Homo sapiens: one gene and its partners. The protein of the gene in region 2 interacts with the protein of the main gene of each other region in a pairwise test. Each region holds a gene or a part of one and is shown on either strand. Other genes may lie near its edges. The genes, in order: IRF4, PROX1 and LBH.

The links.
Region 1: the proteins of PROX1 (region 2) and IRF4 interact in a two-hybrid assay, tested with the Homo sapiens proteins (one large-scale study listed by BioGRID and IntAct).
Region 3: the proteins of PROX1 (region 2) and LBH interact in a two-hybrid assay, tested with the Homo sapiens proteins (one large-scale study listed by BioGRID and IntAct).

What each region holds. Positions count from the first base shown.
Region 1 is NC_000006.12:408,662-412,002, reverse strand, and holds the end of IRF4 (interferon regulatory factor 4), read right to left. Parts: 3' UTR 560-3,341; downstream 1-559. UniProt on the Homo sapiens protein: Transcriptional activator. Binds to the interferon-stimulated response element (ISRE) of the MHC class I promoter. Binds the immunoglobulin lambda light chain enhancer, together with PU.1.
Region 2 is NC_000001.11:214,001,339-214,004,987, reverse strand, and holds part of PROX1 (prospero homeobox protein 1), read right to left. Parts: intron 1-3,649. UniProt on the Homo sapiens protein: Transcription factor involved in developmental processes such as cell fate determination, gene transcriptional regulation and progenitor cell regulation in a number of organs.
Region 3 is NC_000002.12:30,230,174-30,234,473, reverse strand, and holds the start of LBH (protein LBH), read right to left. Parts: upstream 2,941-4,300; 5' UTR 2,736-2,940; coding exon 2,710-2,735; intron 70-2,709; coding exon 1-69. UniProt on the Homo sapiens protein: Transcriptional activator which may act in mitogen-activated protein kinase signaling pathway.

The DNA of each region.
Region 1 (3,341 bases), on a different chromosome or scaffold from region 2:
TGGAAGTTAGTAGGTGCATAGGAGCTGAGCCATGTAATCAGTAGAAGCGATGAAGCTGAGAAAGGAGACTCCCTTGCCTGGCTGCTCAGAGAGAGGAAGAGTTTGGAGCTGAGGTCAACAGCAGACGTACGGATCCCCAGGGGTTCCATCTAAATCCTGTTCTCTTTATCCAGTTTTCCATTTGATTTTCACATTTGGAGTGTTAGTTAACCTATATCCCTTCTTTTTAGCAATGACCAAAATCAGAGGAGCTTCGAATATAAACAAAAGAAAACATTAAAAACAACTTCCTTGAAAGCCCTAAACCTTTTAAAGTACAGATAAAGGAAGAGGAGGCAGATGCTAACGGGAGAGCAGGATGATTACTCTTCACAGACACTCCTCTGTGTGGGAGGAGCAGCCCGGCACTTGGCCAGCGTTTGTCTCTTTAACAAGGTGAACACTTGGAGATCTGATTTCAGAGACACGTACAGCAGCCTCTCTGAAGGAACGTAACCGCAGGAGAAAGTGCTTTAAAAGCTATCAGGATGCATGTTTAATAACACACACACACATTCCATAACAAATTTTTAAAAGTTTTTATTTACCTAAAAACATAAATTTATCAAACATATCAATTTGCTTTGCAGAGCAATTTACATAAAAATTCATGATGTATACCAACGACAGCATAGCATTATCTACCTCAGTTTGTGAAGCATCCTTTCCTACAGATCTCAGCAAAACGCAGAGCCAGTAGGGGAAATTCAAGCTTTCATTTGGGGGCCTCTGGGGTCCTACCTGCTGGCAGTTCTTTCAGCAGAAAGTGGGGTACGGGGGATGCTGAAGAGGGGGAAGTGGACCCCATTGCCTGTTAAGTCCCATCTGTCTCAGTTTGAAGCAACACGGGAATTTCCATTGGAGGAGGGTTGGCCTGCCGGCCTGGCCCTTCTCTCACGTCCCCTCTACTTCAGCTACATTTCTTATGCATGTTCCTCAAAGCTGTGAAAATCAATACAAAAAAAAACTGACCTTTACTTCATTCCTGTAACAGGCTATCAGGATCTCAAGGAGATCCACCTGCATCGAGATCAGTCTCAAAAACGGGGCATGTAAAACATAACTTACAAAATGGTGTGTAAGGTCTGAGAGCCTTCACGCACCATTCAGACAGATGCAGCTGGCCACAGAGGACTTGGGGAGATACGTAATACAAATAAAGACCTTAACCAATCCCAACACTTTCAGAAAAACTTTCACCTGTGGGGAAGTGGGGGCATGTGACTGGAGAGCAATGAACGGAAGTTTACACTGGATCTGAATTGTTACTAAAAAAGTAACTGACACGCACACACAAGTGGCCTTCCTGGCGGAGCATCAACAAAGCCAAGAGGTGCGAGTACCCAAGACTCCCAGAGTTGTTCCACCCCTGGGGCTAGCTGTATTTATGCCCTCGCTCAAAGACCAGCTTTTTCAAACACTAATACCTACCTGCCCTTGGTGGTAACAATACTGTAAGGGCTGCTCATTTCACTGTAGGATTTTACATTTTTCTCACCATGGCACAGTCTCTTTTTAGTTCATACCCAATAGTCTAGCTGGGTTTTCTGTAGGGCGACTAACTCTCCTGTTTTCGCTCAGGACTCAGGGGCTTCCTAGGTTTCAGTTGTAAATGAGTCGGTCACTTGGTTCTCTATAGTGTTCCAGGAGATATTAATTACTGCTTGAGGTTTTCCTAAATATACAAAATCTCAAGAACAAGACATAAACCAAGAAATGCACCTGGGAGACACATACATTTTTTCCATATGACCCAGTGCTCTTTAACAAGTCCTCAAATCTTCAACAGCACTGTCCACTGAGTACAAACTAAATTCTAGTTTGCCAATTCCACTTTATCAAGACAAGGAATGAGGAAGCCGTTCCTTTTCAGAGTCCTGAGACAAGTGCTAGGATTCCTAACCCTGAGTATTTCATAGCTAGTTCATTCCCTAGGTCATACCCTGGATCACTCAGAATTTTAAAAAGTCAACATACACATAGATGTAAAGATAGGAAAGGAGGTAGTGGCCCCAGCCAAGAAGCATTTTCCAGAAAATTCAGCTCCACTGTTAAAGCAGCATAATATTTAAAAAAACAAAGAAGAAGAAGTCACAAAGCAATTGAAATGGAGCATCCGCTTGGAGAATTAAGAAGACAGGGTGCTCCTGAGACAGACTTCCAAGACAGCTTCTTTGAAGTGCTGTGTGGGGTTAAATATTCTTCAGCAAAGAGGGTCACAGGTAAGGGCCCCGTGAAACAGCAGTTCTTAATATCATCTTTATCTTCCCTTAGGATAATATACCCCAAAATACTTTGCATCTATAAGATGTATACATCACTGCAGTTCACGAAACACAGTCTGCTGCCCAATACATATCCATGTTGCATGGCTAATGAAATGTCAAACCCTACTGGGTACATGGCAGTGGAGCTCCACAGCAAGGCCTCTGAGCAGAACGAGGTAAATCTTCACTGTTAGCTACAAAGAGCACTGCATGAAAGTGTGTGCAAGATGACTCCATGAGGTTTTCTTTTTAAGTTTATGTATATTTACAGAAAAGTGAAATGTGTTGGAAGAATAAACACCCCTTCTTGTGGACACTTTTAGAGAGGAGAATTTGGGCTGGGAAAAAAGGAGATCCTTTTTATTTTTTTGCTGTTCTCTACTGTTTGTCTTTTCTGTAGTTAATATTAATATTAATTGTATTAATATTCTGACTTTAATATTAGAAACTTTTTAAACATTAAAAAATAATGTTTCAGTGCTCACTGCTCACTAAGCTTGATAAAGGCTGAACTGTGTAATGTAGGGATACAGCAGGCACTTACTAGGTGCTTGTTGAATGAATTTAAAATATCCATTAGAAAAGCAGGAACACACATTTGAGAGCTACGCAATCTTCTGCTGATCCTGGGAGTAATAGTAAATATCCTGTAGTATGAGAAACGGCCTGGAGGTGACGCCCCAGTCTACTGCTGTACTTTCTCAAAACCACAAAAATGTAAGTGATAGGTATACTTAAGCAAGTGGAGGTCTTTGGGATTCTATAAATAGAAGCATTTGGAAAAAGCCAAGTAATTTTAAGGCCCTGTCAAACTATAATTGGCACGAGGAAGCATAGAACAGATGAAATAAGCAGAAACAGCCCACTGAGTGTGCAGTTCCGTAGTCAGCTCCATCCTGCTTCCAGTGGTGGGTCCTGGCAGTGCTCTCCAGCCTGGGAGTCCCCGGCTCCTCCTCCTTTAGTGTCGCCATGGCTGATCGCTGGACAGCCAAACAAACAGAGGAGCGTGGCACAGAGGAAGGGAACAGATAGTTA
Region 2 (3,649 bases):
CCGTCGCCTGTCAGAGGTTGCCACATGCAATGGTGAGGATGCACAATTGAGTTGCAGAATCTTGGCTACTTTAGGGTGAGGATGGCAAAATATTTTCCTTGCTTTAGGTCGGTAGGCTATCTATACATTCACTTGTTGCTAAGGAGACAAATGCACCCAACATGTACTACACAACTCTTGTCATAAGAGGTTTTTTTTTCTTCCTTGCAATTACAGTTCTGTTTGTTCTTCTCTCCACACTCTGCAGTTTAAAGCAAATTATTCTACTAATGTACATGAAAATATAAAATGCATTATTTTGAACACTGCTATGCAAGTTTCACATTTTACCTTTTAGTGTTAATCTAATGGAGCATCTTGACTCACTTGCTTTTTATCTTATTATATCCTTTTAATTGTTTTTCCTTTTAAATAATAGCTAAAACTTGGGAAGAGTAGTTTTGGCATGGAGAGGACAGGGAGGGGGCTGTTGCTTTTGTGAAAGCAATGGTCCAAAACCAAATACAATTTGCCTGTCTTGGATTTATAGTTAACTCCTTTGAGAGTGACGCAGTAGTTGGGGCTAACAAATCAATACATGTGGGTTAGCAGATCAATAAATGGCCACTTACCCAAAATAAGAAGGCCTATTTATCTGGAAACATCATTACCTTTTAGATCTGTAAACAGCAGCAACTAAAACAGTTCCCAAGAGAATGTGAGGCTAACCATAACAATCCAGGCTTCCTGATTCTCCCCCAGATTCTTGGCACTCCTCAGCAGACTCAGAGCTGGGATGGCTCTGGTCACATCTGTGCCGCAGCCTGGCCCTGCCATTTCCTCAGCAAATTAATGGCTTTATAATTTATCAGAAATGAAGATGCACGTGGAGAAAATCAATGTGGTCCCCCACAAGGTCAATTAAGGGCCCTTCCTAGAAGCTTCTCTAAGGATTTTCTTTTAGAAGAGTGTCTAAGAAAAATAAGAAAAAAAAGAAAAGAAAGTGTGCTTGTGTGTGCAAACACACACACAAACACACTCACACAACTACCCAACAAAAATTTCACCCCTTAGGCAGAAATGTCAAATAAACACAGATATTTAGGAAAGGTAAAATTTTCCAAATGACCTTCATCAAGTCTAGCGTGACTAATCTTAAGAATGGAGGGAAACCAGAAAGTTACTAGAGAAGCATAATCAAATTAATATGGATAAGCTCTTGACTACTTATAACAGGGTGTTTAACCAAATATTCTGCTGAGAATTTGTTCAATTAACATTCCCTTTAATATCCCATGCAATTTTAAAAAGATCACCTTGGTCTGTAAATAGAAAAGTTAAGTAGTGCAGGTTTTTTATTTTTTTATTTTTTGTTAAACTGAAAATAAACACTAAAGAAAGAAATTTTGATTTTATATCTGTAAGCCAAAGCAGCTTAACTGAACTTGTGTTTTTGTTTGAGATCCTTAATGATTACAAAGACGATAATTTATGACTGACATACTTCTTGTGCCAAGGAGAGGGCTGAAAGGCCCTCCAGTAACCTCCATTAGACTGATACAGAAGACTAAAGGAGCCCAGCACACTTCAGGACCATCTGTCCAAATGGATAAGTGAAATAATAGTTGCAAGCTGTCTGCGACTGCCTTGTGATAAGAGTTTTAGGCAAGTCCAAACTTTGACAGACACTCTCAGATCTGGGTTCTAATCTTTTCTTTCAGATGGCTACATTAAGACAACGTCATGCATTTAATTGGAAGTCACAAATCTTTTAAAATTTGGTGTCATACAAAATACAAAGTGTTTTTCTGTGTTTCTTAGATGGGCACTGAGCTACCAAAACTTCCTGAAGCTTTTAATACATCTAATTTATGCTAAGATGTTTTTGTTCTTTTTATCTAAAAAAAGTAAAATATCCATTTTATTTTGATCAGTATTTAGAGGCTTTTTATCTAACAAAAAATTATTCTGATTTGGATTTCTCAAGTTCATTTTTGCTTTAAAATGTTTCCTGTTGGTAATACTTGGAACTGATCAGTTGAAATGGAACACAGAATTAATCTTTATCTCTTGCTTATTGTGTAATTAAGATAAAATTCCCATAAAATATATGTTTCTAATAAACTATTAAAAATAACTAATGAAACATTTAAAAGGCAACAGTTAGATAATCCTTTTTTTCTCCTCAAAATAAATCTGAACTGACCAATTGGTTAATTTCCCTTTTAAGTGCTTGTGCTGAAAAGCAACTGTTCTTCCAAGAAAGCACTAGCTGTTTCCAGGATACTTACACACGCACAATGACTCATGATGGAATAGATTCAGTAAACATACAGCTGTACTGAACACGAGCTAAGCTCCATTCAAGGCCAGGAAAGAAAATGAGCACAAATAAATATTAAGGAGGTAAAGGGGAGTGGGGTGAGGGGGGATGGAACGCAAACAAGATCTGTCCCAGCAGCTCATGTGGCTGTGCCTCAATTCTCTTAGCCATAGCTTTGTGAAGACAGATGACATTCAATTCTATGTGTAATGCAAAATAGACAATAACTGTTGAAACTTGAGACAGCTGCCAGGTGTAAAAAAAAAAAAAAAAGAAAAAAGAAAAAAAAAAGAAAAGATGATAAATCCATAAATTAATGAAAGACATCTGCTCGGGAATATAAAAGATCAGAGAAGCAGGGTACTGCAGCTGAACGTAAAGCAGTGTTCAAACAACCTGAGAACCTAAGTGTTGTCTGTTTACCAAGTACAATATAACCTTACCTAAACAGCAGCCACGGGAGGAGCAGCGGAGGCAGCAAAAAGGCAAATGGGAGAATAATAAGCTGTGAAAGCGGAGGAAGAAAATTCTTTTTTTCCAGCTAAACTCTGGATTGTAGCTAGAGATTGTACGTGCTGCAGTTCCCAGCAAATGGGTTGAGACTACTTACATTTTCCAAAACATTTGAAACCTAAAGAATTTTAGTTCTGCCTTATTCCCTAATTTGCTAAGTTTCTAAGAGGTTTTCCCCCTAGAAACTAAAATGGGGAGAAAAGATCTAAACTCTCTCACATAATGACAGTGATAGAGCAAGTCGTAACTCCCACTAGGAAGTTCACCATAATCGGAGGGCTGTGTAGTGTAGGGATTTTTTTTTTTTAATTTACTTACTTTATAATTTTTTTCAGGGGAGGGGGGTAGTGTAGGAGCCCAAAGTCTTTTAGTCTTTAATCTACATGTTTTGCTCTAGCTAATATAAGTACTATAGCCTCCACAAGACTTCTAAAAATGTATAAGATCAATTTCTGTGGATGGTTTCAAATTTCAGAAATTCATTTCTAATCTATGGTTCCTGGTTGGATTTTAATTTCAAATTACTAAACCATTTTCCTTTCTAAACTTCAAGTCTTTCTAACATTCTCCCTAAAAGTTGAGTAGAAAAAGCCGGCTGTTTCAGAGAACAGGCTCAATTTCTTCACCTGCACGTCTTAACGGCTTATACTACTCCTCTTGTGCTTTAACTGGGTGCATGCAAATGTTTGGGGCCTAAACTAGGCTATTTTTCTTGAGATGCAAAGAGGATGAATGACAAGGAACATCATGAAGAAAAGCAATTGGCTGACTGTTTCTTTTGGAATTTGAATAAAACTTAATATTTGATTAAACAGATTCATTTGCAAAGATACT
Region 3 (4,300 bases), on a different chromosome or scaffold from region 2:
CCGATCTCCTCCATGGGCTGGGTGTTCATCATCACCTCAGTCATCTTGGCCGATCTCAGATAGTCGGGGCTGCCAAGAAACCCAGACCAAAAGTCAACAAACACACGCGCTTTCACATTCCTAACTCTTCATGCATTCACTGCTGTGGGATCAGGGGACTGTCTGGAGACAGGAAGAGAGGTGTTCAAAACAGAACTTGCAGCAAAACAAGCTCACACCCTGAGGAAGCGCCTTGCAAGCCCACAGCCCCAGGGCTCAGCCGCAACAGACAAAGCCCATTGTCTGCAGACCTCTCTGGCAAACCTCTTCCCTCCTCTCCTGTACTCTAGTCCCCACTGGCACAGAGGGACCCTGAATGTTTCTTTAAATGACAGAACCAGAGAAACCAAAACAGTAGGTAGCTGAGTCCATCTGTCTATATTAAAACCAATTCAACCACATCTCCCTTCACTTCTCCAACTAAGAATAAAAATAATCCTCACATGAACTTTCCAAAGGGGAACTCTATATATTATTAATACACAATAACAATAACAGGTCAACTGGAGGGAAACAAAGTCCAATCATACAGCTTTCCTAAATTTGTCTCTCTGGTGCTCCTTTTGGCAAAATGTTCCACTTAAAGCCCCAAGGGGTCAGCTTTTCTGCAAGTTTCACATCTGCCATCCATCCCCTTTCTCTAGCCCCAGACACAGCAGCTGCATGCTCACAGCTTGAAAAACATCCCCTGGATTAAAAGCCTTAAGGATACCCGACTCTGACTGCAAAGGAAATTTCCAGAGGGGCCAAGCTGGCCCACCAATGGCTGACATGTGAAAGTGCCTTGTACTCTCTAAGCAGGATACGAATATTCCCTTATCCTTGCACAAACTCTGGGCACATACAGGATCCCGTGCACATAATGCTGAACATAAGCACCAAATACAGGTACCTGCTACACAGCACCCAATGCTTTCCACCATCGTGCCTGTGCACATGGTTTAAAACAAAAATATGGGGGAGTCTTTTGAGGGACAGTATCTAAGGAAACAGGGGTACCAGATGCCTCTTCAATTGTATGGTTACTACATAGATAAGAAATGACACTGGATTTAGAAACAGAAGCAATAGGTTCTAGGCTCTGCCCCTCAAGAACTGTGTGATCTTGAACAGGTCCTGTAACTTCTCTGAGCCACAAGTGTCCTGTTTGTCTGTTACTCTGATGCTAATAGTGCATACCTCACAGTTAGGTTAAGGGCTAATGTCTGCATAAAAGCATTGCAAGCTGCAAAGTGCTAATCGATGAAATAAACTTAAACCTTAATTTCTCATAATATTCTTAATGGGTCCAAACACCCACCTTGGCAAATTTTGAGCAGCCAAAGGCACAAAGCCTCCAACAGCCTTCAAAGCTTCACCTATAATAAGGCACCTAGCTGCTCACACACCACGGGAGAGGCAAGGGAGGGGCACCCACAAGAAGGGTACACAAGCCTCGGGGTGGGGGAACTTGAACTGTTGAGAGAGGGAAGTTCAGTCCCCTCTCTAAACACTGCCAGGCTGGGACGGATGGGGGCAGGGAGACTAACAGAAGATGCGGGGCTTTGCGGCAAGTTTAGGTTCGGGAGCTGGGCCCTGCAAAGGCAGTTTCCTCCCGGGTCTTGGAAAGGCTGCTGGCGACCTCCAAAGAAAGGAGCCAGAAGAGCGCACGCAGGGTGAAGAGTCTGACGTAGGGGCGGCTCTTCCTCGCTCGGGGCTGTGGCGCCGGCCCGAAAAGTTGAAGCGAGAAGCATGAACTTTCCGCTTCTTGGGCCAGGCCGGACCCCGCCGCGGCTTGCGCCGGTTTTCCCTTCGCTCAGCGCCTGCCGGAGACTCGGGGCCGAGCTCCCCACGTCCGCACCTGAGAGCGCGCTCCGGGGCTGCCGGCGCTCGCCCCCGGCCGCTTCTCCTCTAACCCAGAGCAGGAAGGAAGAAACTGCCAGCAAGGAAGTCCCAGCAGTCAGGGGCCTGCCTCTCTCTGCATCCCTCCCGGCTCCGATCCCCAGTCCGGGGCAAACCTCCGACGCCCCGCGCCCGGCCCGGGCTCCTTCCCCTTCAGCACGGCGAAGGCGGCTCCTCCCAGTCCCGGCCCCCACCAATGTGCGTCGGTTTTTAGGGGCGGTGGAGAGGGCAGGGGTTGAGAGGCTGCAGCGCGTGCCCTGCTGCTTGTGGCTTTAGTGGGGTTACGTGTGGGGAGAGCGTTTCCCGCCCCCCACCCCCCCGGAGCTCTGCAAACCCTGCGGCCGCACCAGCTCAGCCCCGCTGCTGCCGGCCTCGACGTTGAGACTTGCATGCAAACAAAAAGAAAAAGAGGAGGGGCCCGGGAAGAGCAGGAGCCCCCCTGCGCCAAGTGGGGCGCGCGCCTCCTGCAGCTCTCCGCATAGGGTGGTTTCATTGGGGGGGATTCACACGTGACCCCTGGCTCCCCCGCCAACCAATACAAACCCTCCGGCCGTCACTTAGGTGAGGGCTCCGAGTTCACGTCCTTTGTCTGGATGTTCTCAGCACCCCCTCCCCCCACCCCCACCTTTGCAACCTTGACGTTGACTCCTGCACGGGCTCGGGCGGCGGGTTAGCGCTGAGCGCCCGCGCCGCCGGCTGCCCTCGCACCCGGAGCCGGCACGAAGCAGGCGCCCGGGCCCGCAGCCACCGCCGCGAGACAGACGCCCGCCGCAGGCGCAGGGTACTCACCAGTGAATGGGGAAATATATAGACATGAAGTCCTAGGGCAGGCTGACACACGCCCCTGTGATTTAAAAACGGTCCCTGCGTCCCGAGTGAGGATGACACGGGCGCAGACGGGCACGGCAGGCGGCCGAGTGCGGACACCGGGCGCTCGCCGTCCGCCTTCCCAGGACAGCCCCACGGCTAGCGACGTCGGCAAGGTGGACACAACTCCCCGCTCTCCACTGAGCACTCAGCCCCACAAAGAGCCCGGGAAGCCGTATTTATAGGGGCGGGGGCGGGGCTTGGCCCCGAGAGGCCCCGCCCTCCCTCGCCCACTCCTGGAATAACGTCACCAAAATCATGAATGGCTTCAGCGCTCGCAGCTCCGGCGGGCGGCGGCTCGGGGGCGCGCTCGGCTCTGCTCCCGGGGCCGTGGTTCGCTGCGGCTGCGAGCCCGGCCCCCTCCCGCCGCTCTCCCACGCGCACACGCGCTCACTCGCACCGGCCCGGACTCCGCGTCCGCGCCGCTTCCCGCTCACAGCCCCCTCCACGCACACCCCGAACTCCAGCGCGGCGGAGGTGGGCGCAAGGAGGGCGCGGGGGCCGCTCGGGACATGACAGCTCGGCGGCTGCTCTGCGCCGGGGTAGGGCACCCGCCACTCCTCCACCCCAGCCGCCCGGCGCCAGCGCCCTCCTTCCCATCCACTGGCTGTCCCCAGCCCACCTCGGACCCCTCTGAAGCGTTTGTTCCCCATACTAGGCCTCTCTCTGGAATCCTCGCCCGCAGCCTTGCGATCAGCGAGGGGAAACAAGAGCATGGTTAAAGAAGAAGCGGTGGGAAGGTGGCAGAGACGCGGAGCCGGGGGACCGAGTGCCCACGGGGCGCGTTGGCTTGCGAAGGGCTGGTCTGCAGCCCTGAGTTCCGTGGAAGGTTTTATTTGTGGGAGCAAGGATGTGGTGTCGTCCTGGGTAGGATTTTTCCATTGGAGACACACATACGCCCGGTCTGCAGCGGGGGCAGAAGGTGTGGGCGGGCGGTGTGCACGCCGCCCCCCATCCTTGACTCCCACGTCTTCTCCGAGGAGTCGCTCATGACAGCAGAAACAAAGAGCTTTAGCCGAACGCCTCCCACACTGCCCAGGAATTGCAGCTCTGGGCGTCTGTCCAGGCAGTCAAAGCTGCGCAGCCCCCCAGAGCCACATGATGGGAGTCTCACTCGGGACCCAGCGCTGCCGCTCTGTGGCCTCCGCTTCAATCACGCCTGTAAAATGGCTTTAGAACCCTCACCTACCTGTGTATAGGGGCTGAGGAAAGGGGGCGCGGGGAGATCAAAAACTAAGCAAAATTAAATTGGCTTTGAAGTGAATCAGCTTTTTAAAAGAAAGGCAGTGAGTGTATTGAATCCGTATATATGTACTTGAAAGTGGAAACGCATAGCTTATCTCAGGCAAAAGGATGACAGAATTAATGGCGAAGGTTCGACAGGGGTAGGACCCTGAAGGAAGCCGTGAGAGAAGACCCTCATAATTTTCATCAGTCCCCGCAAAACCAGCCCAAACAAAAATTATAAGAATTGATGAGAATAATTTATTTAAAAATAACTGGGCTATTTTCA